Linked DNA regions of Homo sapiens. The protein of the gene in region 7 interacts with the protein of the main gene of each other region in a pairwise test. Each region holds a gene or a part of one and is shown on either strand. Other genes may lie near its edges.

What was found.
Region 1: the proteins of A1CF (region 7) and METTL27 interact in binary tests that used the Homo sapiens proteins (3 or more experiments, as listed by UniProt).
Region 2: the proteins of A1CF (region 7) and EIF4G1 interact in binary tests that used the Homo sapiens proteins (3 or more experiments, as listed by UniProt).
Region 3: the proteins of A1CF (region 7) and REL interact in binary tests that used the Homo sapiens proteins (3 or more experiments, as listed by UniProt).
Region 4: the proteins of A1CF (region 7) and POGZ interact in binary tests that used the Homo sapiens proteins (3 or more experiments, as listed by UniProt).
Region 5: the proteins of A1CF (region 7) and ECM1 interact in binary tests that used the Homo sapiens proteins (3 or more experiments, as listed by UniProt).
Region 6: the proteins of A1CF (region 7) and PLEKHG4 interact in binary tests that used the Homo sapiens proteins (3 or more experiments, as listed by UniProt).

Annotation. Positions count from the first base shown.
Region 1 is NC_000007.14:73,836,804-73,839,516, reverse strand, and holds part of METTL27 (methyltransferase-like protein 27), read left to right. Parts: intron 1-479; exon of another isoform or gene 480-657; intron 658-2,713.
Region 2 is NC_000003.12:184,317,606-184,321,105, forward strand, and holds part of EIF4G1 (eukaryotic translation initiation factor 4 gamma 1), read left to right. Parts: intron 1-111; coding exon 112-211; intron 212-2,083; coding exon 2,084-2,196; intron 2,197-2,657; exon of another isoform or gene 2,658-3,024; coding exon 3,025-3,117; intron 3,118-3,321; coding exon 3,322-3,388; intron 3,389-3,500.
Region 3 is NC_000002.12:60,888,074-60,891,573, reverse strand, and holds part of REL (proto-oncogene c-Rel), read right to left. Parts: intron 1-3,500. UniProt on the Homo sapiens protein: Proto-oncogene that may play a role in differentiation and lymphopoiesis.
Region 4 is NC_000001.11:151,449,495-151,452,994, reverse strand, and holds part of POGZ (pogo transposable element with ZNF domain), read left to right. Parts: intron 1-2,046; exon of another isoform or gene 2,047-2,085; intron 2,086-3,500. UniProt on the Homo sapiens protein: Plays a role in mitotic cell cycle progression and is involved in kinetochore assembly and mitotic sister chromatid cohesion.
Region 5 is NC_000001.11:150,511,109-150,514,289, forward strand, and holds the end of ECM1 (extracellular matrix protein 1 isoform 1 precursor), read left to right. Parts: coding exon 1-90; intron 91-348; coding exon 349-723; intron 724-1,243; coding exon 1,244-1,464; intron 1,465-1,616; coding exon 1,617-1,704; intron 1,705-2,128; coding exon 2,129-2,359; 3' UTR 2,360-2,681; downstream 2,682-3,181. UniProt on the Homo sapiens protein: Involved in endochondral bone formation as negative regulator of bone mineralization. Stimulates the proliferation of endothelial cells and promotes angiogenesis. Inhibits MMP9 proteolytic activity.
Region 6 is NC_000016.10:67,286,032-67,289,531, forward strand, and holds the end of PLEKHG4 (puratrophin-1), read left to right. Parts: intron 1-242; coding exon 243-332; intron 333-413; coding exon 414-635; intron 636-717; coding exon 718-888; intron 889-968; coding exon 969-1,146; intron 1,147-1,866; coding exon 1,867-1,983; intron 1,984-2,135; coding exon 2,136-2,369; intron 2,370-2,444; coding exon of another isoform or gene 2,445-2,457; coding exon 2,458-2,573; intron 2,574-2,771; coding exon 2,772-2,777; 3' UTR 2,778-3,449; downstream 3,450-3,500. UniProt on the Homo sapiens protein: Possible role in intracellular signaling and cytoskeleton dynamics at the Golgi.
Region 7 is NC_000010.11:50,816,128-50,819,627, reverse strand, and holds part of A1CF (APOBEC1 complementation factor), read left to right. Parts: intron 1-3,348; coding exon 3,349-3,500. UniProt on the Homo sapiens protein: Essential component of the apolipoprotein B mRNA editing enzyme complex which is responsible for the postranscriptional editing of a CAA codon for Gln to a UAA codon for stop in APOB mRNA.

The DNA.
Region 1 (2,713 bases), on a different chromosome or scaffold from region 7:
TGTAAACTTTGCACATTGCGCTGCCCGGGCAGGTGTGTTTCCCGTCTCCTGCTGTGTTCTTGCTCAGCGCTTTGTTCTGCTCTGGGCAGAGGGCTCAGACCCTGCCCTCTGGGCCTTGATCTCCAACCCACTGGGGCCCAGGAAGGGGCCAGAGAGCACAGGGCCTGGTCAGAGGTGGCCCCACGAGAGCCGTGAGTGCTCACTGCTCCCAGAATTTATTTATTTATTTAATTTGAGACAGAGTCTTGCTCTGTCACCAAGGCTGGAGTACAGTGGCACAATCTCAGTTCACTGCAACCTTCACCTCCCAGGTTCAAGAGATTCTCCTGCCTCAGGCTCCCAAGTAGCTGGGATTACAGGAGCCCACCACCACACCCAGCTAATTTTTGTATTTTTAATAGAGATGGGGTTTCATCATGTTGGCCAGGCTGGTCTTGAACTCCTGACCTCAAGTGATCGCCCGCCTTGGCCTCTCACAGTGCTGGGATTATAGGCATGAGCCACTGTGCCTGGTCCTGCTCCATGAATGTAGAGAAGAGAGGCATTTCCAAGACCAGGTGAGGAATCCACATGGGGTGCACCCTAAGGCAGAAAGGAGAGGGGCTGAGCATGAGAACGAGGAGGCGCTGGCTGGCTGCAGGACAGGAAATCATAGAGGTAAAAATGCTTCCTCTCCCTCCCGTCTCTGCCAGGCCCAGCAGAGGCTGTGGCTAAGCCTGGGCAGGTCTGGGCAGGCATCTGGGGAGCCCTGAAGGCTGACAAATGCAGGGACACGGATGGGGTCAGCTGGAAAGGTCGAAGTTGGGCCCAAGAAGACAGGAACTTTCTACTGGGTGAAGCAGCCAGGATCGGACTTCCTAGCCCAACCTGTGCTTGCTAAGCCCTTCAGCCCCATCAGGCTGCCCATGGGTGACAGTCTCCCCTGCTCCGGAGCCTCTCCTCTCACTGCGCTCCCTTCTATCAGCAACACCCTGCTTCTCCTTACCCCCTCCTCCAGGAAACCTTCCCAGACCAGTCACTTGGGCTTCCCCATCTCTCCTTCTCAGTGCACTTGGGGCCACCCTGGGCACGCACACTATAGGTGCCTGGACCTGAGGTGACAAGGCCATTCAGCCGGCACTTACTGTAGGGCACTTCAAACACACATACCAGCCTTCCTGTGATGTTAGATAATCATCCTCTCTGTGCCAGCTGGGAAACTGAGGCCCAGAGAGGTGAAGGGATAGCCCAAGATCCAAAGCCCACATGGGAACTTTCTTCCTGTCCATTCAGACACAGTCACATCCTCCAGCAGAGGCGTGGGTGAGTGGTGAGTGGTGAGGAGGGTGTCTCCTCAATCCAGGAGAATTACGTCAAGAATTCCCCACCAGGCACAGTAGCTCACCCCCATAATCCCAGCACTTTGGGAAACCGAGGCAGGAGGATCCCTTGAGCCCAGGAGTTCAAGAGCAGCCTGGACAACATAGCAAGACCCCATCTCTACAAAAAAAAAATGTTTAATTAGCCAGGCGTGGTGGTGAGCACCTGTGGTCCCAGCTACTCAGGAGGCTGAGGTGGGAGGATTGCTTGAGCTCGTGAGTTGGAGGCTACAGTCAGCTATGATTGCTCTGCTGCACTCCAGCCTAGGAAATAGGGTGAGATCCTATCTCAAGAAAGAAAAAAAAGGGGGGGTGGGCAGGCACAGTGGCTCACGCTTATAATCCCCAGCGGGCAGATCACCTGAGGTCAAAAGTTCGAGACCAGCCTGGCCAACATGGCAAAACCCCATCTCTACAAAAAATACAAAATAGCCGGGCGTGGTGGCACGTGCCTGTAATCCCAGCTGCAAGGGAGGCTGAGACAGGAGAATCACTTGAACCCAGGAGGCGGAGGCTGAAGTGAGCCAAGAGCATGCCATTGCACTCCAGCCTGGGTGACAGAGCAAGACAGGGTCTCAAAAAAAAAGAAAGAAAGAAAAAGGAATTCCCAATGTAAAAGACACAGAAAGACTGCCCTGGGAAGGAAGCTGGAAGAATTTCTTTTTCTTTTTTTTTTTTTTTTTTATTGGAACATTAATTAGGTTTTATTTTCACTTTTTGTTTCCACAGTAACATGTATGGGATTAGGTTACAGTGTTTATTTGTCCCCAATCTTTTATTTATTTATTTATTTATTTATTTATTTATTTATTTTTAATTGATTGACTTTTTATTTTTTTTTATTTTTTTTAAATTTATTTATTTATTTATTTATTTTTTATTGATAATTCTTGGGTGTTTCTCACAGAGGGGGATTTGGCAGGGTCATAGGACAATAGTGGAGGGAAGGTCAGCAGCTAAACAAGTGAACAAAGGTCTCTGGTTTTCCTAGGCAGAGGACCCTGCGGCCTTCCGCAGTGTTTGTGTCCCTGGGTACTTGAGATTAGGGAGTGGTGATGACTCTTAACGAGCATGCTGCCTTCAAGCATCTGTTTAACAAAGCACATCTTGCACTGCCCTTAATCCATTCAACCCTGAGTGGACACAGCACATGTTTCAGAGAGCACAGGGTTGGGGGTAAGGTCATAGATCAACAGGATCCCAAGGCAGAAGAATTTTTCTTAGTACAGAACAAAATGAAAAGTCTCCCATGTCTACTTCTTTCTACACAGACACGGCAACCATCCGATTTCTCAATCTTTTCCCCACCTTTCCTGCCTTTCTATTCCACAAAGCCGCCATTGTCATCCTGGCTC
Region 2 (3,500 bases), on a different chromosome or scaffold from region 7:
GTCATTGCCCAGAGTTGGCTTGTCTTGTCTTGACCTATGTTCTTTTTGGAGTCTGATATGGAACTCATAGCTCCCTCAACTCCTTCTCTCCCTCTCCCCCTTCCCCACCAGGGGCGTTCCACATACGTTGTCCCGACACAGCAGTACCCTGTGCAGCCAGGAGCCCCAGGCTTCTATCCAGGTGCAAGCCCTACAGAATTTGGGACCTACGGTAAGCAGGGGAGGGAGTCAGAGGTGAGAACAAGCCCAAGGGAGCATCTAAACTCATCTGCTGATTTCTAAAGCAGAAGACCCTTCCCAGGCTTGGCTTCTGGTCTAAAAATGATAAGGTTAATAGGTGGTAGGGATTGGTGCTTAATATTTAACTGGTGTTGATTGTGGGGAGAAAATTTGATTTTATTGCCAGGAGAGTTAAGAGTCTTTCCCACATCAGGGAATGTAGGATCAGGCACCAGCCTGAGAGCCTATTAGTAGGCTTTCCCTGTGACACTTCTTCCATGGTTGGGAGCCCATGTAATGCAAATTTGGGAGGTTTTTGTAGCTATTTTTTATTTATGTTCTAGGGAAGGATTAGTCTGTTCTTTATGGCAGTGGCTTCCAAGTTTTTTGATCACCTATCAGGAAAAGTTTTGAGTATGAATCTCTCATACATGTATGTTTTTGTTTATATGTATGCAAAATTTAAACAAATACACTTGTGCTTGTCAAAAACAAGTGGAATTTAGGGATGAAATTAAAGAATGTGCCCGGATCTTGCTTGTAATCCCAGCACTTTGGGAGTCAGGAGGACTGCTTAAGGCCAGGAGTTTGAGACCAGCCTGGGAAACTTAGTGAGACCCTGTCTCTATTTTAAAATTTGAGGGGGGCTGAGCACGGTGGCTCACGCCTGTAGTCCCAGCACTTTGGGAGGCCAAGACAGGCGGATCACTTGAGGTCAGGTGTTCGAGACCAGCCTGGCCAACATAGTGAAGCTCCGTCTCTACTAAATTTTATTGTTATTATTTTAATTTTCTTTTTGAGACGGAGTCTCGCTCTGTCACCCAGGCTGGAATGTAGTCGCACAGTCTTGGCTCTCTGCAGCCTCCGCCTCTTGGGTTCAAGTGATTCTCCTGCCTCAGCCTCCCGAGTAGCTGGGATTACAGGCGTGTGCCACCACACCCAGCTAATTTTTGTGTTTTTAGTAGAGATGGTGTTTCATCATGTTGACCAGGCTGGTCTCGAACTCCTGGCCTCAAGTGATCCACCTGCCTCAGCCTCCCAAAGTGCTGAGATTATAGGCGTGAGCCACCACGCCTGGCCCTGTCTCAACTAAAAATACAAAAATTAGGCCTGGTGATGCACTCTTGTAATCCCAGCTATTCGGGAGGCTGAGGCAGGAGGATCGCTTGAACCCGGGATGTGGAGATTGCAGTGAACCAAGATTGTGCCACTGTATTCCAGCCTGGGCAATAGAGTGAGACTCCATCTCAAAAAAAAAAAAAAATTAAGGGGAAAAAAGAACTCACCCACTTTGGAGATAGTTTGCTTTAAGGAATTAATTTTTCTTCATCTTGAGCCTAGTTCATAATGTTACTTTGTTTCTTTGCCCCTTTGTAAAGGGCTGGAGACAGGAACTAGACTCAAGTTAAATGGAACAGGGTTGGCAGATCTCTTTCTCTCATTACCAGCCAAAGACCTGGTTCTGTTTCAGGTTCAGAGTATGTGTGTACATGTTGATAGCGGGTGGGGTACACACACGAGAGTAACTTGTACGGTGGAAGGACAGACATAAGTCCTCCTGGTCACTGGTGTGTGGTAGGAAAGAGTGCCTGCCTACGAGGGGTGTGTGTGTGTGTGTGTGTGTGTGTGTGTGTGTGTGTGTTTGTGTGTGTGTGTGTGTTAGGAATTCTTGTAAACGCAGTTCAGACTGGTTCCCCAGCTTTGACAGACACCTAATTCCCTGGGGGAGGAGGGCAGGGCAGGGCAAGGCAAGGGGCCGGCTGTGGGTGGTGAGAGGTTTTGGGGTGGGAGGTGTCAGGCAGGCATTAGTATATGGTTGGGCCCTGACGCTACCACCATTCTTCTCCGTCCCCCCTCCCCCAAGCTGGCGCCTACTATCCAGCCCAAGGGGTGCAGCAGTTTCCCACTGGCGTGGCCCCCACCCCAGTTTTGATGAACCAGCCACCCCAGATTGCTCCCAAGAGGGAGCGTAAGACGGTGAGTAGCAGTGAGGGGCTCCGGGACATCTGGGAAGGGGAGAATCAAGGTCAGGTGCTGCTGGGACATTGTGCCGGAAAGAGCAGTGACTTGAGGAGGAAGGAGCTGAGAGTGGGCAGAGAATGGTGTCTGTGGAGGGCTCAGGTTCTTTGTAAGATGCTAAGATTTCAGCATAGAAGCAGGTCATGGGAAGACTGAAGTGCCTAGCGAGGAAGTTCCTGCGAGACCTGGGTGCTGGGGGGTTGGAAGAACTATGCTTGGTTTTGGGTTTCTAGTGGCTTGCCTTGGAAATGGTTTGTTTTCTGTGGCCCCAGCCCCCATTCCCCCCTGCCCCCCCAGTCCTGGAAGCTCTCAAGGCCTCCGCCTCTGCTCAGTCCTCAAGCCCTGGGCGTGGTGCCCAGAATAGGGTGCCAGAGCTGGGGAAGCCGCTGAGTCACCCTGGCTCCACCTACTGGATCTGGGCCCTGCCCCCAGAGATCAGGCACACTAGCCACAAGTGAGCCGATTGGGTTCTAGATGGGGGTCCTGGGCCCCAGGGTGTGCAGCCACTGACTTGGGGACTGCTGGTGGGGTAGGGATGAGGGAGGGAGGGGCATTGTGATGTACAGGGCTGCTCTGTGAGATCAAGGGTCTCTTAAGGGTGGGAGCTGGGGCAGGGACTACGAGAGCAGCCAGATGGGCTGAAAGTGGAACTCAAGGGGTTTCTGGCACCTACCTACCTGCTTCCCGCTGGGGGGTGGGGAGTTGGCCCAGAGTCTTAAGATTGGGGCAGGGTGGAGAGGTGGGCTCTTCCTGCTTCCCACTCATCTTATAGCTTTCTTTCCCCAGATCCGAATTCGAGATCCAAACCAAGGAGGAAAGGATATCACAGAGGAGATCATGTCTGGGGCCCGCACTGCCTCCACACCCACCCCTCCCCAGGTACTGTCTGCTTTTCGAGTGATACCCTGGCTGGGATGTCTGTTCTGCCCTGGACTCCCAAGTCCCTGGATCTTTTCTTTCAACTAAGGGATTTATTTCCCTGCTTTCCTGGATTTCTAGGCAGAGCTAAAGTAGAAATGGCTCTAGTAAAGAAGGGTTGTGGGACTCTTCAGTGCAAACTTGGTAACCCTTTGTGTCCTGCAGACGGGAGGCGGTCTGGAGCCTCAAGCTAATGGGGAGACGCCCCAGGTTGCTGTCATTGTCCGGCCAGGTAAGTAAGCCGGTGGGACGGAGCTTTTATGGGGAAAGGGAATGTTAACAGTTAAATGCTGAGGTGGTGGAGTGACTTGAACTGGGTACCAGAGAATGATGACTTAGATTTC
Region 3 (3,500 bases), on a different chromosome or scaffold from region 7:
CCTCCTAACATTAAATAACAAGACCGAAATGTTATCTTGGAGATTGGCTGGGAGAGGCACCTTTTTTTCCCATTCAAATTGAGTCCCTATGTAGTGTCAAAACAAGTCATTCAAACCATATTGACTGGTTAGCACTTTATAGCTTAATATCTATAGCTAACGTCAATATGAAGTTCTGAGATAACCACTTCAGAGATATCTGCCTCCCACGTGAGACCTAGCAGAAGGGTTTCCCCCAAGATTCCCCAAGAAGGGTAAAGAAGGCAGTATTCAGAAGTAAAATATCACACTCCTAAAGTGAGTTAAATATATTTAACTGCTTGATTTTACATCATATTCATAATACTGAATGAAAAGACCATTCACTGAAAATGAAAATGCATTTAAATCCTTGCAGAAGCATATGTAAGTTTTTTATATCTCCATTCAAATATTAAAGGACTTACACACAGTATATCAAAACAAGCCCCAGGAGGGACTTTAGGCTCAAAGAATGTGCAATCAGTCCCATGCAAACCTTTTCTAAAGACATAATAGAGAAAAAAAAGTATTCACTTTCTATAATAACTAAAATTCAAAATATGCATCTGCAGAATGAACTGCTGCTACATATAATAACATGGACGACTCTCAAAATGATTATGCTGAGTGAAAGAAGTTAGACCAGAAGAGCACATACTGTATGATTCCATTTATATGAAACCCTAGGATATGTAAAGTAATATACAATGAACGATAGCAGATCACTGGTTGCCTAAGAACAGGGATATATGGTGGATAGGAAAGGCAGGGGGGACATTATCTTGTGATGATGATTCCAGGGTTGTATACATATGTCAAAACTTGTCAAATTGCATACTTTAAAAGTACAGTTTGTTGTACATAAATTATATGTCAATAAAGCTATTTAAAATGTATGCAACTTTACTTTTATTATCCAAATTGTGGGGGAAAAGGTAAATAGACACTCAACTGTACTTGCAAGTAGGGGAGTTAATAGGGGTGTGAAGATGTTTTCCATTAAAAAATAATAATAATGTGTCCCTTAATCACTTTAGTGCTGACTAAGGCTTATCCTGTTAGAACGCAAGCAATCCTGAGAAATGGTAACACAGTGGGCCTTATCAGAACAGTATGGAGAAGAGGCCTTTAGAATCCTACCCCAGCTACTTCTTAACAGTAAGACCAAGGAAATGTGATTAAAATTAAAAATCTCTTAGTTTCCTCCTCTGTAAAATAGGAATAATCATAATAGCACCTACCTCATTGGGTTGTTGTGAAGATGACAGATTATATGTGCTAAATTCTTACGAAGTGTCATATATACATACACATTCAATAAATGTTGTCTACGTGAAAAAATGCTCATCATCACTGGCCATCAGAGAAATGCAAATCAAAACCACAATGAGATACCATCTTACACCAGTTAGAATGGCGATCATTAAAAAGTCAGGAAACAACAGGTGCTGGAGAGGATGTGAAGAAATAGGAACACTTTTACACAGTTGGTGGGACTGTAAGCTAGTTCAACCATTGTGGAAGTCAGTGTGGCGATTCCTCAGGGATCTAGAACTAGAAATACCATTTTACCCAGCCATCCCATTACTGGGTATATACCCAAAAGATTATAAATCATGCTGCTATAAAGACACATGCACAAGTATGTTTATTGCGGCACTCTTCACAATAGCAAAGACTTGGAACCAACCCAAATGTCCAACAATGATAGACTGGATTAAGAAAATGTGGCACATATACACCATGGAATACTATGCAGCCATAAAAAAGGATAAGCTCATGTCCTTTGTAGGGACATAGATGAAGCTGGAAACTATCGTGAGGACAAAAAAACCAAACACCGCATGTTCTCACTCATGGGTGGGAATTGATCAATGAGAACACATGGACACAGGAAGGGGAACATCACACACCAGGGCCTGTTGTGGGGTGGGGGAAGGGGGGAGGGAAAGCATTAGGAGATATACCTAATGTTAAATGACAAGTTAATGGGTGCAGCACACCAACATGGCACATGTATACATATGTAACAAAGCCGCACGATGTGTACATGTACCCTAAAACTTAAAGTGTAAAAAAATAAAAAATAAAAAAAAATGGTGTCTATTATTTCAGATGCTTTCTTGAAAACAATGATTTAGTGATACTATGGTGGTATCCCAACTGTCACTCTAAAGGACCTTATAGAAGAGCAAGGCAAACAACATATATTATTAGACTACAGAAGGAAGGAAAGCACTAACAAAATTCTGCGGAAATAAGAGCGAAAGAGTCAGGAATGCCCAACTGTGTCAGTGGAAAAAGAGCGGTTAATGAAGCAAAAGAGCGGAGGAAATGAAGAGGAAAAAGGTAGGTATTCTAGGGAAAAGGGAACAGTGTGTCCACAGAGGAGGGTTTATTTAAGAATCACCAATGTAAATGGAACACACTTTCTCTCTTAAAAAGAGAACTAAAAGTCAGAGCACACTTGGCAATGTGGATTTCATTTTATGTGTGATGAAATCAATGAATATTTTGATGCAGGCAAATCACATGATCAGATTTGCATTTTAGAGTAAAAGTTTTAGTCACAGTGAACAGATAGAAAAAAGAAAGCAATGTCATCAGTTTAGAGACCACTATAATAATGTGGGCAATGATGAGGGTATCTCTGATATATGGCAGTGATAAGATGAATGAAGGATTATTTAAAAGATAAAATTGACAGCACCTGGTGCCTGAACAGTAGGGTTAAGAGAAATTAAAGAATCACTGATAGCTCAGAAATTAAAGAATCATTGATGATTCCATGGCTTCTACTTTGGGTTACTGAATAAAGTATTACTGTAACTTTCAATTTTATTCTGTATGGTGTAAACTCCCTGTGTTTGAATCTACTACCTATTTGTTTATTCAGAAGATGAAGAGCCAGAGAAAACTGACTTTAACCTAAACAAGTTCATAATCCTTATTTCAGTTTTACTCAAAAACATAAGATATGCAGATGAGTATTTCACGATTTTATCCTTGCATATTTTAAAGATTTCAAATTCACATTGCAATTTCAAATATTTCATACCCTTATATATCCTTGTAGGAGTATTTAAGAAAGTATATTTTCCTCTTAAAAACTGTTAAAATCAACATTACTTTTTAAGTCACATTTTAAATAATTTATGTGGCTGAAGTAAAGGCCAAATAAATCCCTGCCCACTACTTATTTAAAGGTGTCTTGGTGGGAAACTGATATAAAATGACATCGTTAATGATAAGTGTTTAACTTTGGGAAGAGAGAGTGTGAATAAAACTGCTAGGTTCATAGTGAGCATTCAAATATTTCACTGAGGCTGGGCATGGTGGCTCATACCTGTAATCCCAGCACTTTGGGAGGCCAAAGTGGGTGGATCACTTGAGGTCAGGAGTTCCAGACCAGCCTGGAAAACATGGTGAAACCCCATCTCTACTAAAAATACAAAAAATTAGCGGGATGTGGTGGCAGG
Region 4 (3,500 bases), on a different chromosome or scaffold from region 7:
GCCAAGATCACTCCAGCCTGGGCAACTGAGCGAGACTCCATCACAAAAAGAAGAAAAAAGAAAAGGGTGAAAGAATTCTACAAGGAACACTTAAACTATCCACCACCTAGACAGAGTGACTTTTTTTTTTTAAGACAGAGTCTCGCTCTGTTGCCTAGACTAGAGTGCAGTGGCACAATCTTGGCTCACTGCAACCTCTGCCTCCCGAATTCAAGCGATTATCCTGCCTCAGCCTTCCGAGTAGCTGGGACTGCAGGCACCAGCCACCACGCATGGCTAATTTTTGTATTTTTAGTAGAGACGGGGTTTCACTGTGTTGGCCAGGCTGGTCTCGAACTCCTGTCCTTGTGATCCGCCTGCATTGGCCTCCCAAAGTGCTGGGATTACAGGCGTGAGCCACTGCGCCTGGTGACAGGATGATTTTTAATGTTTTGGCCCATGCCAAATATTTTTTGAAAGTTGGCATACTAGTATCTATAAGAAAATATCAAAATAGCCCACCTGTAGTGACAACTACTTGGGAGGCTGAGGCAGGAGGATCACCTGAGCCCAGGAGGTTGAGGCTGCAATAAGCCGTGATTGTGCCACTGCACTCCAGCCTGGGGGATAGAATGACACCCTGTCTCAAAAAAAAAAGCCAAATATCTATGTATTTGCTTAACCCCTTGAAAGTCACTTTCAAGATATTTCTATTAAATATTTTGTGCATTTCCTAGGAATAAATACATTCTCCTACATGAATATAATATGATTATCCTTTCTGTTTAAAAATTTTTTAGAGGGATCGGTTCTGTTTCCCAGATTGGTCTTGAACTCCTGACCTTAAGCAATCCTACCACCTTGGCCTGCCACCATGCCCGGCCAACATTGACTTTTTTTTTTTTTTTTTTTTTTTTTGAGACGGAGTCTTGCTCTTGTTGCCCAGGCTGGAGTGCAATTGCACCATCTCGGCTCACTGCAACCTCCACCTCCCGGGTTCAAGCAATTCTCCTGTCTCAGCCTCCTGAGTAGCTGGGATTACAGGTGCCCACCACCACGCCCGGCTAATTTTTGTATTTTTAGTAGAGACTGGGTTTCATCATATTGGTCAGGCTGGTCTCGAACTCCTGATCTGAGGTGATCCACCTGCCTTGGCCTCCCAAAGTGCTGGGATTACAGGCGTGAGCCACCGCGTCCAGCCGAACATTGACATTTTTAAAGAGACTTCTATTAGTTTTATAGAATGTTCCATATTCTGCATTTGATTATTTCCTTCTAGAATGTCCCACCTTCTGGATTTATCTCATTATTTCTTTGTGGTGATACTTAATTTGTTCTTTTATTGCTGTATTTCTTGTAAACGCAAAGTTACATTTAAATAATGGATTTGGGCCAGGCGCGGTGCCTCACACCTGTAATCCCAGCACTTTGGGAGACTGAGGCGGGTGGATCACCTGAGGTCAGGAGTTGAAGACCAGCCTGACCAACATGATGAAACCCCATCTCTACTAAAAGTACAAAATGAGCCAGGCATGGTAACGCATGCCTGTAATTACAGCTCCTTGAGAGGCTGAAGCAAGAGAATCGCTTGCACCCAGGAGGTGAAGGTTGCAGTGAGCTGAGATCGCGCCATTGGGCTCCAGCCTGGGCAACAAGAGTGAAACTCCATCTCAAAAAATTTAAAAAAAAATAAAATAAATAAATAATTGATTTGATTCAGGTTAAATATTATTGTCAGTAATACTTCATACATTGTTTTTGGCTTTTCTTGTGTATTTGTTTGCAAAAAAATGCCATAGACAAAACAGCTGATAACTAATGTGAATTATTAGTCAGTAGTTTATTGGTTAATGTTTTTCTTTTTTCTTTCCCTTTGAGGCAGTCTCCTGTCTCAGCCTCCTGAATAGCTGGGATTACAGGCGTGTGCCACCACACCTGGCTAATTTTTGTATTTTTTTTTTTTAGTAGAGACGGGGTTTCACCACATCTCTGGTCATGGTCATGGCCAGGCTGGTTTTGAACTCCTGACCTCAAGTGATCCACCCACCTCGGCCTCCCAAAGTGCTGGGATTACAGGCGTGAGCCACTGCACCGGTCCTGGCTAAGGTTTTTCTATTTAAACATATTACAATCATAACCTTTGGCTTTTGAGATACAGAGCTACTGTAACTTTTAAGTTCAACCATAAATAAGATTTTTGAGGAAGAACATAGAAATAGGTTTCCATTTTGTCACTTTGAGGCATTGCCCTCTGCAAAAATGATTTGAAAGTTGAAGAAGCTAGAAGAGTTTATATGTAGCAAAAGTAACCTGTAGAGGAATTGTAAAGGGGCCACAACAAGAAAAAATTTAGAACTGGGGAGGCTGGGCACGACTGCTCATGCCTGTAAAACCCAGCACTTTGGGAGACCAAGGCAAGCAGATCACTTGAGTCCTGAAGTTCAAGACCAGCCTGGGCAATATGGCAAAACTCTAGCTTTATAGAAAATACAAAAATTAACCAGGCGTGGTAGCACATGCCTGTAGTCCCAGCTACTTGGGAGGCTGAGACGGGAGGATTGCTTGAGCCCAAGAGGTCGAGGCTGCAGTGAGTTGAGATCGCGCCACTGCACTACAGCCCAGGCGACAAAGACCCTGTGACCTAAAAGTTGTCAGATGAATATGAAGATAAAATCAAGTTCCTGGCTGGGTGCTGTGGCTCATACTTGTAATCCCAGCACTTTGGGGAGGCCAAGGCAGGTGGATCACCTGAGGTCAGGAGTTCAAGACCAGCCTGGCCAATATGGTGAAAACCCATCTCTACTAAAAATACAAAAACTAGCCAGCCGTGGTGGTGGGCACCTGTAGTCCCAGCTACTTGGGAGACTGAAACAGGAGAATTACTTGTACCCGGTAGGCGGAGGTTGCAGTGAGCCGAGATCGTGCCTCTGCGCTGCAGCCTGGGTGACAGAGCAAGACTCCGTCTCAAAAAAAAAAAAAAAAAAAAAAAAAATCAAGTTTCACAGGTAGGTGATTATAGGATGAAACAGACTAGATATATATGGATTTTATAAAAAAATTTTTAACATACAAGATATAACCATTTGAATAATTCATAAGAACCTTGTTCTGCTCTCTTGCAGAGTTTTTGAGACGGAGTCTCGCACTGTCTCCCAGGCTGGAGTGCAGTGGTGCAGTCTGCAAGCTGCATCTCCCAGGTTCATGCCATTCTCCTGCCCCAGCCTCCCGAGTAGCTGGGATTACAGGCGGCCGCCACCACGCCTGGCTAATTTTTTGTATTTTTAATAGAGACGGGGTTTCACCGTGTTAGCCAGGATGGTCTTGATCTCCTGACCTCGTGATCCGCCCACCTCGGCCTCCCAAAGTGCTGGGATTACAGGCGTGAGCCACTGTGCCTGGCCTGAGAGGACAAATATTTTTAAAAAGAAATGATAGTTCTTTATGTATAGAATGTGGGATGATTTTTTTTTAATTGCCCTCGTTTTCAGAACATGTATTCAGTTTGATCAGTGATTTTCAGT
Region 5 (3,181 bases), on a different chromosome or scaffold from region 7:
GGTGAGACCCTCAATTTCCTGGAGATTGGATATTCCCGCTGCTGCCACTGCCGCAGCCACACAAACCGCCTAGAGTGTGCCAAACTTGTGGTAAGGTTGGGTTCTTGATGCCGGGGGGTGTCCTTTAACCCCAGACAGTATGTGTGTTTTAAGGGTTAGAGCACTAGGCCTGGGTCTGGAGGAACCTCAGGTCCCGTTCACTGGCCCTACCCTGGGCCTCCCCAATGTGCCAGGGGAGCAGAGGACAACCACTGTCTCTTCTTTATCTGCCTGCCCAGTGTCCTTTCCTGGAGCCTGGGAGGAAGGCAGGAATGTGGAAAGTGGGCTGATCCTCCCCTCTTGCTCTAGTGGGAGGAAGCAATGAGCCGATTCTGTGAGGCCGAGTTCTCGGTCAAGACCCGACCCCACTGGTGCTGCACGCGGCAGGGGGAGGCTCGGTTCTCCTGCTTCCAGGAGGAAGCTCCCCAGCCACACTACCAGCTCCGGGCCTGCCCCAGCCATCAGCCTGATATTTCCTCGGGTCTTGAGCTGCCTTTCCCTCCTGGGGTGCCCACATTGGACAATATCAAGAACATCTGCCACCTGAGGCGCTTCCGCTCTGTGCCACGCAACCTGCCAGCTACTGACCCCCTACAAAGGGAGCTGCTGGCACTGATCCAGCTGGAGAGGGAGTTCCAGCGCTGCTGCCGCCAGGGGAACAATCACACCTGTACATGGAAGGCCGTAAGTGGGCGTCCCAGCCTCCCTGAGAGCCTGTTTGCCTGCCTGCCCATCTTCGACCTCTGATCCTGCCAGTCCATCCATCCATGTACCCCCCCTGCTGTGAGTGCGTCCACCCGTTCATCTGCTTGTGGCTGTCCGTCCATCCATTGTGTTTGTCACCTGAGTTTGTTCATCTTGAGCTTCGTACTACACTTCTGGCCTCCTCCACTCATGATCCACACACGCATCTGTCTACCATCCATCCATCCGTCCAGCTCTGGCCTCACCTGACCTTCTCCATCCACTGTTCCAGCTCATCTCCCGGCACCAGCTTGGAACCTCATCCAGGCTTCCACCCGTCCACCTTCCCAAGCCCACACATCAACAGTTGCCTCCTAACCCTCTACTTTTTTGCCATTCCCTTTGGGCCTCTCGGGCTGGGAGCCCCTCATCTAGTTGCCAGGGACGATAAGGGAAGTCGATGGTCAGGAGAGAAGGGGCCAAGTGTCCAGCTTCTGACTTCCCTCTCTCTGGTCCACAGTGGGAGGATACCCTTGACAAATACTGTGACCGGGAGTATGCTGTGAAGACCCACCACCACTTGTGTTGCCGCCACCCTCCCAGCCCTACTCGGGATGAGTGCTTTGCCCGTCGGGCTCCTTACCCCAACTATGACCGGGACATCTTGACCATTGACATCGGTCGAGTCACCCCCAACCTCATGGGCCACCTCTGTGGAAACCAAAGAGTTCTCACCAAGCAGTAAGTTGCCTAGTCCTTCCCCACTCTCTTCCTTTCCCGAAAACTTCCTTTTGGGACACCTTTGGGAAAAGCAAAATCATGATATCCCAACCCCATCTGATGCCAGAAGATGCCCAAAGACCCTAACCCCTGCCCCTTTCACACCAACATAGTAAACATATTCCTGGGCTGATCCACAACATGACTGCCCGCTGCTGTGACCTGCCATTTCCAGAACAGGCCTGCTGTGCAGAGGAGGAGGTGAGTGTGTGGAGTCTAGTCTCCAGAGGAATGCAGGGGAGGGGAGGGAAAGAGCTAGAACTGCAGGCCACCCCTTCTCTTTAGTACCTCAAACCAGCCTTTGGTTATAATGACTAGTGGGGGAGGTGTTTTTTTCTTGGTTCCAGAAAAGTCTTCACTCTGACCTGGCCTGCTCCCCATCTCTAAGTTCCTATTATGCCTTCTCCGGGCCACAAGCTTCTGGCATTTCCAGATGTACACATTTGTCAGTCACAAGGAATCCAGCTGTGCAAGGCAGTCTTGTACTCTCTCTGGGCCCCAGGAGGGGAACGAGGGAGAGAGCAGTAGAAGCTGATGAAAGGGGGACTTTGGCACCCAAGTATCTACATCTGTCCTTGGACCACCTCCCCACCCCATCATCTGTTTTACTTTTCTCATTCATCAGAAATTAACCTTCATCAATGATCTGTGTGGTCCCCGACGTAACATCTGGCGAGACCCTGCCCTCTGCTGTTACCTGAGTCCTGGGGATGAACAGGTCAACTGCTTCAACATCAATTATCTGAGGAACGTGGCTCTAGTGTCTGGAGACACTGAGAACGCCAAGGGCCAGGGGGAGCAGGGCTCAACTGGAGGAACAAATATCAGCTCCACCTCTGAGCCCAAGGAAGAATGAGTCACCCCAGAGCCCTAGAGGGTCAGATGGGGGGAACCCCACCCTGCCCCACCCATCTGAACACTCATTACACTAAACACCTCTTGGATTTGGTGTCCTCATTGTCTATCTAATGTCTCACCCGCAGTGTTTTAAGTGGATCTTGGTGCCCTGGCCCAGGAGGGCACTGGCGTTTTCAGACACACCACAGACAAACACACCCTCCTAAGCCTGCTTGTATTTCCTTCAGTGCCTGGCCCCTGAGGCCCACGGCCCTGCCCCCTTCACTGAGCAGATGTTCACAGGCTGTGGGATGCGACCATAACTAAACAGCTTGACGTCACTTTGCCATCTTGAATTTATTCACATATTTTGAAAGGAGTGCCACCTTGTTAGCTAGCTATCAGGACTCAAAGAAGATATGGTTCTTGGCCTTGGTGAGCCCCCAAAATGCCACAGCCCAGCCTAACATTTTTAAAGCTTCACTTTTGATCCTTAGAATTCATGCCTTCATTCATTCAATATCCTTTTTTTTTTTTTCTTGAGACACAGTCTCGCTCTATCGCCCAGGCTGAAGTGCAGTGGCACGATCTTGGCTCACTGCAACTTGCAACCCTCCTGGGTTCAAGCGATTCTCCTGCCTCAGCCTCCCGAGTAGCTGGGATTACAGGCGTGCACCAGCACACCCAGCTAATTTTTGTATTTTTAGTAGAGACGGGTTTTCACCATGTTGGCCAGGCTCCCAAAGTGCTGGGATTACAGGCGTGAGCCACTGTGCCTGGCCAATATCCATTTATTGAACCCCTATCTATGCACACTCTGCTAGACTTGGGGATACACATC
Region 6 (3,500 bases), on a different chromosome or scaffold from region 7:
GGAGCTCAGTCTGAGGGCAAGGGGCTTCTTCCTTGGGGGCCTGTGGGCACACCCCCTTTGCCCAGTACTGTTCTTGCCAAATCACCCCTTGTTCAAAGCAGGGAAGACTGGGTCTGTAGGGGAGGCCTCCCTAAGAGGCATCTACTGGCATTTTGGTCCTCTCAAGCTGAGGGTGGTCTAGCCTGTGCCAGCCTTAGGGAGCTGGCCCCTTTGCACTGGGGCTGAGCCACATGTCCTTGTAGAGGGTGCAGTTTGGGATGTACGCGCTCTACAGCAAGAATAAGCCTCGCTCCGATGCCCTGATGTCAAGCTATGGGCACACCTTCTTCAAGGTAAGTGAACCTGAGATTAGGAGGAGTAGGGGATGCGGGGAGTGCCCCCAAACCACTCAGTGGCCTCCCATCCGCCCACAGGACAAGCAGCAAGCACTGGGGGACCACCTGGACCTGGCCTCCTACCTGCTAAAGCCCATCCAGCGCATGGGCAAGTACGCACTGCTGCTGCAGGAGCTGGCACGGGCCTGCGGGGGCCCCACGCAGGAGCTCAGTGCGCTGCGGGAGGCCCAGAGCCTTGTGCACTTCCAGCTGCGGCACGGAAACGACCTGCTGGCCATGGACGCCATCCAGGGCTGTGATGTGAGTCATCCCAGGGCAAGGGCAGTGGGTGTGAAGAAGAAGGCAGAAGAGGCTGGCCACCCACCAGCCCCCAACTCTGCAGGTTAACCTCAAGGAACAGGGGCAGCTGGTGCGACAGGATGAGTTTGTGGTGCGCACTGGGCGCCACAAGTCCGTGCGCCGCATCTTCCTTTTTGAGGAGCTGCTGCTCTTCAGCAAGCCTCGCCATGGGCCCACAGGGGTTGACACATTTGCCTACAAGCGCTCCTTCAAGGTAGGCCTGCCCACCCCAGGCCCCACCACTTGTTTTCCCGCCCCATGCCTTACCAAGCCCCTCTCTCCCGCTGGCCACAGATGGCAGACCTTGGTCTCACTGAGTGCTGTGGGAACAGCAACCTGCGCTTCGAGATCTGGTTCCGCCGCCGCAAGGCCAGGGACACCTTTGTGCTGCAGGCCTCCAGCCTGGCTATCAAGCAGGCCTGGACAGCTGACATCTCCCACCTGCTTTGGAGGCAGGCCGTCCACAACAAGGGTGGGTCCATGCCCCTCCTTCACGCCACACTCCCCTCACTGGAGAGCTTACATTGACCCACAGGAGCCCAGAGACCTGGGAAAAGCTCGGGAAGTGGGGAGAAGGCCCAGCGACAGCCACCAGTGCAGGAGAAAGGATTTCAAAGCCAGGCAGCCTTGCTGTCACTGCCTCTGACTTTGGACACAACGTGAACTTCTCTGAATATAAGGGGCATCATGGCTCTCTCTCTCTTTATTTTTGGAGACAGGGTCTCGCTCTGTCGCCCAGGATGGCGTGCAGTGGCATGATCTTTGCTCATTGTAGCCTCTGCCTCCTGAGCTCAAGCATTCTTCCCACCTAAGCCTCCCAAGTAGCTGAGACTACAGGCATGTGCCACCATGCCTAATTTGTAAAATTTTTTCATAGAGGTCTCATTATATTGCCCAGACTGGTCTTGAACTCCTGGGCTCAAACAATCCTCCTACCTCGGCCTCCCAAAGTGTTGGGATTACAGGCGTGAGCCACTGCGCCCAGCCAGGGGCCTCATCTTTAAAAGGGGAATATGGCACCTGCCCCACAGGATTGTTGGGAGGAGAGCACCTGGCACTAGAAAGGCTCAGCTCACAGGACAGTTAATGTGCTGGATGGAGGTGTACAGGAAAGACTTATCTGGGGGGTGGTAGAGGCCCAAGGACAGGCTTATGTCCAGAAGCATCCCACTTATGTCCACTCTCCACCCAGAGGTGCGCATGGCTGAGATGGTGTCCATGGGTGTGGGGAACAAGGCCTTCCGAGACATTGCTCCCAGCGAGGAAGCCATCAACGACCGCACCGTCAACTATGTCCTGAAGTGCCGAGGTAGCAGGCAGGCTACAGGGTGTGGGGGTGGGAGTAGGAAAGCTGTGCGGGAAGCACTGTGGCCCTCCATTAGTGCTGGCCCGCACTTTCCTTGGGATCTGGGGCCAGGCTAGGCTCTGGCCTGTCCCAACCTGACCCTCTCTCTTATGCAGAAGTTCGCTCTCGGGCGTCCATTGCCGTAGCCCCGTTTGACCATGACAGCCTCTACCTGGGGGCCTCGAACTCCCTTCCTGGAGACCCTGCCTCTTGCTCTGTTCTGGGGTCCCTCAACCTGCACCTGTACAGAGACCCAGCTCTTCTGGGTCTCCGCTGTCCCCTGTATCCCAGCTTCCCAGAGGAAGCAGCACTGGAGGCTGAGGCAGAGCTGGGCGGCCAGCCCTCTTTGAGTATGTCTGGGCCTAGCCAGAGGCAGGAGGGCATGGCTTGGGGTCTGGGGCTTCCCGTGCTGACAGTTCACCCAGTCTCCCTCCCTAGCTGCTGAGGACTCAGAGATCTCGTCCCAATGCCCATCAGCCAGTGGCTCCAGTGGCTCTGACAGCAGCTGTGTGTCAGGGCAGGCCCTGGGTAGGGGCCTGGAGGACTTACCCTGTGTGAGTGCCATTTGCCCTATACCCACCAGCCCTTCCCCAGCCCAAGCTGAGCCTGTGACTGTGACCAGCCCCTCCCCAGCCCAGGCTAGGCCTTTACTTTGGGTAGAGCTTGGGGTGGGTGGGCCAGAGCCATTCCCCAGACACCTCCTGGGTCCAGAGTCAGGGAAGCAGGCATTCATGCCTGGCCTGGCCCTGCAGGTCTGAGCCCGGGACTGGACGAGCAGTAGATCCAGCAGCCTGCAGCTCCAAGGAACATTGCCTCTCTGGATCTGCTGTGACCAGGGTGTGGCTGACACCTGGGCTACCTCCAACCTACATGTGCAACGCTGTTGACTACCCTTTCTGATGTGTGTGGCCATTGGACTAACTGGCACGGGGCCTCTCTAGGGAAGTCTGGTTGTAGAGCCTGAATAGGCTCCTGGCCCCATGACCCCTTCTCCTGTCCCCAGCTCCCATCCCAGTTGTGGGTTAAGAATAGGCTAGAGCAGACATTGGGTGTTTCCATGCTGTAGGCTGGTGGGGGACCATGTGCCTCTAGGCAGTGACTAGGGTGCCCCCACCCCTCAGGAAGAACACAGGTGGGCTCCTAGCAGCTGATCCCCAATGCCTGGCCTTAAAGCCGAGCTCAGTTACCATAGGGACAGGTCCACCTCTACTGGGCCCTCATGCTTGCCTTTCCTGGCCCCCAGGCCCAGCCCCTTTTTACTGGGGCAGTTTCGTTATTTTGACTTGATGCCTTTTGAATAACTTTCAATAGAATTGTCTAAAATTATCTTACTGGTTGTTAGGCCTTTGGTGTCTCAGAGAAGGAGTCTAGGTCTTTGATGTGTGATTTAATCTTTTATTTGTTTATAATAAAAAATAGACTGATATGTACCCTCTGATGGGCACATGCATTCTGGGCTATCTCCAATTAAAATGAGACTT
Region 7 (3,500 bases):
ATCTGGCATCGGTCAGGGTCCCAAAAGAAAACAAATAGCAAAGGAATTAATTACAAAAGTGCGAGTGGGGACTAGGGAAATCAAAAAAGAGTGTCAGAATTTGGGGCTCACAGCATTCTGGAGTCAAAGGTACAAGGGGCTGGAGAATTAATAGAAATCCTGAAAGGGGAGAGAATTGTGTAGAGCAGATCTCTTTGCAAGAAGTTGCTGGGTGCAGTGGCTCGCACCTGTAATCTCAGCACTTTGGGAGGCTGAGGTAGAAGGATTGCTTGAGCCCAGGAGTGCAAGACCAGCCTGGACAAGATGGCAAGACCTCATCTCTACAAAAAATTAGCCGAGCATGGTAGCATGGACTACTACAGTAGTCCCAGCTACTCCGGGGGCTGAGGTGGGAGGATCTCTTGATCCCAGGAGGCTGAGGCTGCAGTGATCTATGATTGTGCCTTTGCACTCCAGCCTGGGCAACAGAGTGAGACCCCACCATTAAGGAAAGAAAGAAAAGAGAAAAGAAAGAAGCAGTGATTTTGGTCAAAGGACACAGTCAGCCCAAGGTGACCTCTCAAAGACGGGTCCAGCAGAATAAATGCCCCGAATTCACTGTTGTCTCTTCTCCAACCTCCTACCAGTGTTCCCCATTGGCTAAATGCAATCACAATCTAGAAGGCTAAAGAGGACCCCATGTAGAACAGCTTCCCAGAGCAGAGAGCAGGCTGGAGCTGGTAGGTGGTGAATTCCATAGGCAGTGGATCCAGATGGCAAAGGGAGGATCTCTTAGCCTAGGCCCTTCAGACACTGTGGAGCCTCTTGCATATTAGCTCCTCAGGGGCCCACTCAAACTCAAAAAGTTTGAATACTGGAGGGTGGGGTGGAGAAAGTATTCACTCTGAAATACAAAAAAGAAAACTGCAAAGAAAAACTAATGCATAAATACATGTCTATAAAGAAAAGCATTATTTCATCTTCATTGATGATCACATTTAGTATCATAAAAGTGTTATTACTTGGAAAACAATTTGTAAGTTAGATTTTCTCTATATGGAAACATTCCTGAGTATACATGATGATTGCTGGGAAGGAACAGCCATCACAAATTAAATGCCAAAAATTACGTTGGAATAATTACAATTGAAACATATTCAAATTCCCAATTTTTGCAGCTAGATATTTTTAGAGTAATTATTTACACATATTATTTAGTTAAATATATATTTAATATTATATTTGACTATAATGTGGTATGGAAAAATCAAAAGTAAGTTTTCCTAGGAACTATGAAGGTTTTTGAGCATATATAGAGATATTTATATTTAATTTGTTAGATGAAGTGAGATCTTGAAATTTTTTCTACGATAATTATCACATTTACAATTTAGGAAAATTAGCCTAGTAAGAACTGACTTTTTAATACAGGTGAGAGAAACATGTCATAGAAACTAGTTATAAAGCTATTATAGTCAACCAAATGGGACAAAATAAAGTCTTGAACTTAGGTAGGAATGGAATGTAGGAGACAGCCATATGCAGAACAGTAAGGGATAAATTCAAAGGACGCAGGAACTGATTGGAGATGGGGTGAAAAAGAAGGACAAGTCATTATAAGCTTCCAATATGGTAGGTTGTTATGAAAGTCAGGAAGGGAAGCCTATTCAGAGAGAAAAATGATGAATTGAGCTTCAGAATGATTATTCATTTATTCTTTTTGTAAGTCTATGAAGTGAAAGAAATTTTACTAAGCTTGGGCTATACAGATTAATAAGATATTGTCCTAGCTCTGGAAATATCTAAACCAAATAACTAAAATACAATATTGAATTTAAAATGCTTTTGGATGGGACAAAGGAAGGCAGAACAAAATTTGTTACAAGATATCTGAATTTGCCGCAAAGAATCATTCCATGCAAAACATCTCTTGATATGGAAGTGCCTATAAGCAGAGACCTATTTGGGTCTCTCATCTTCCTCAAGACTGGACTGAAGATATAAAGAATCTTATACCCAAGTTCCTCCCCTATTTTCAGTATGCCAGGTCTACTTTTTCTAATTACATCAACATCAATATAAGATTGTTGAATATCAGCTGGATTCTGTCTGTCTCTCAGAGTATTCCATCTAACTTATTTGACACTGGCTCCTGCTACTAAAAAGTAAGGTAAATACATAATACTGGGGACAAATTGACCAAGAGGCTGAACAAAATGGTCAGGATGACCATGAAGCACAAGCTTTGTCCAGCAGACTTCAATAATCCAGGAACCACTGAGTCACTGTTGAAATCAGAGGGTAAGGGTGCACACTCAGCTGCTGTGAATGGGAATTTCTGTAGAAACACTTTACATAAAAGTGTTCTTTATATAAAACAGAGGATCTTCACATTCTTATTCAAAAACAAAGCCACAAATGCTTTCAGACAATACTTTGTTCCTTTGATAATAAATACATCAATCTATCAAGAATTTCTTGAGAGCCATCATTGTTTATTGTGTAGGCAAGCAATACATAGAAGTTAGTAGCACACGTAGATCTACATACATCCATTATCTTTGACATCTGGAGCTGTTTGCAGTCTCAGAATTTGTGTCAGAATTCTTAAGGACAGGTTTTAAGCAGTGCATGATCTGAGAACCTCAATACTACTCTCACTCCCAACTACTCCTGACCCCTGTCATCCCTGTTTATTAGCTCCCAACTGTTCAGCAGATCAAAAGGTGGCTTCACAAGGAAGAACCTGTGGCAGGCAATGCAACAGCCTCCCAGATTCCTCTTCCTTTGGTAGAGCCACAGTATGTCTCTCTTCTCCAGTGAAAACTTACTTGTGTGGCTGCTCTAAGGAGCAAGACAGTTAGCGGGCTATCAGCTGGAAGGGCCTGATTTGGCTGCCCATGCTAAATGCTAATAATTGATAAGATTTCTTTATTGGTTTCCTTTCACCTTCATCTTATTGTGCAAGGTAATGGAGATTTTATACCATCCATAACAAACCTAAATTGTCTTGTAGTTATATAATTATATAAATATGTAATTTAAAACACATATATGACCTAATAAAAATATTACATAACTTTCTGTCTCAGTGACTGTAACCAGATTGTAAATTTATAATGAATATGTCAATGGACACTGGCCAATATGTCACTGTCAAACCTGTTGGCATCTTATGCAACTTACCAACAAAATGGCTCAGAAAAAGTTCAACTGGCATACAAAACAAACCTATAAAATGACAAGATACAATCAATAAACCTACAGCAAATAGTCTAACACTTAGAAGGAGTCATGTTATTAGGGCTCAGCCACACTTGGTTATCTTCATATCATCTCGCGTTGATATTTCTTTGCTCTCTACAACAGGTGCTGGATGGTTCCCCCATTGAAGTCACCCTAGCAAAACCAGTGGACAAGGACAGTTATGTTAGGTATACCCGAGGCACAGGTGGAAGGGGCACCATGCTGCAAGGAGAGTATACCTACTCTTTGGGCCAAGTTTATGATCCCACCACAAC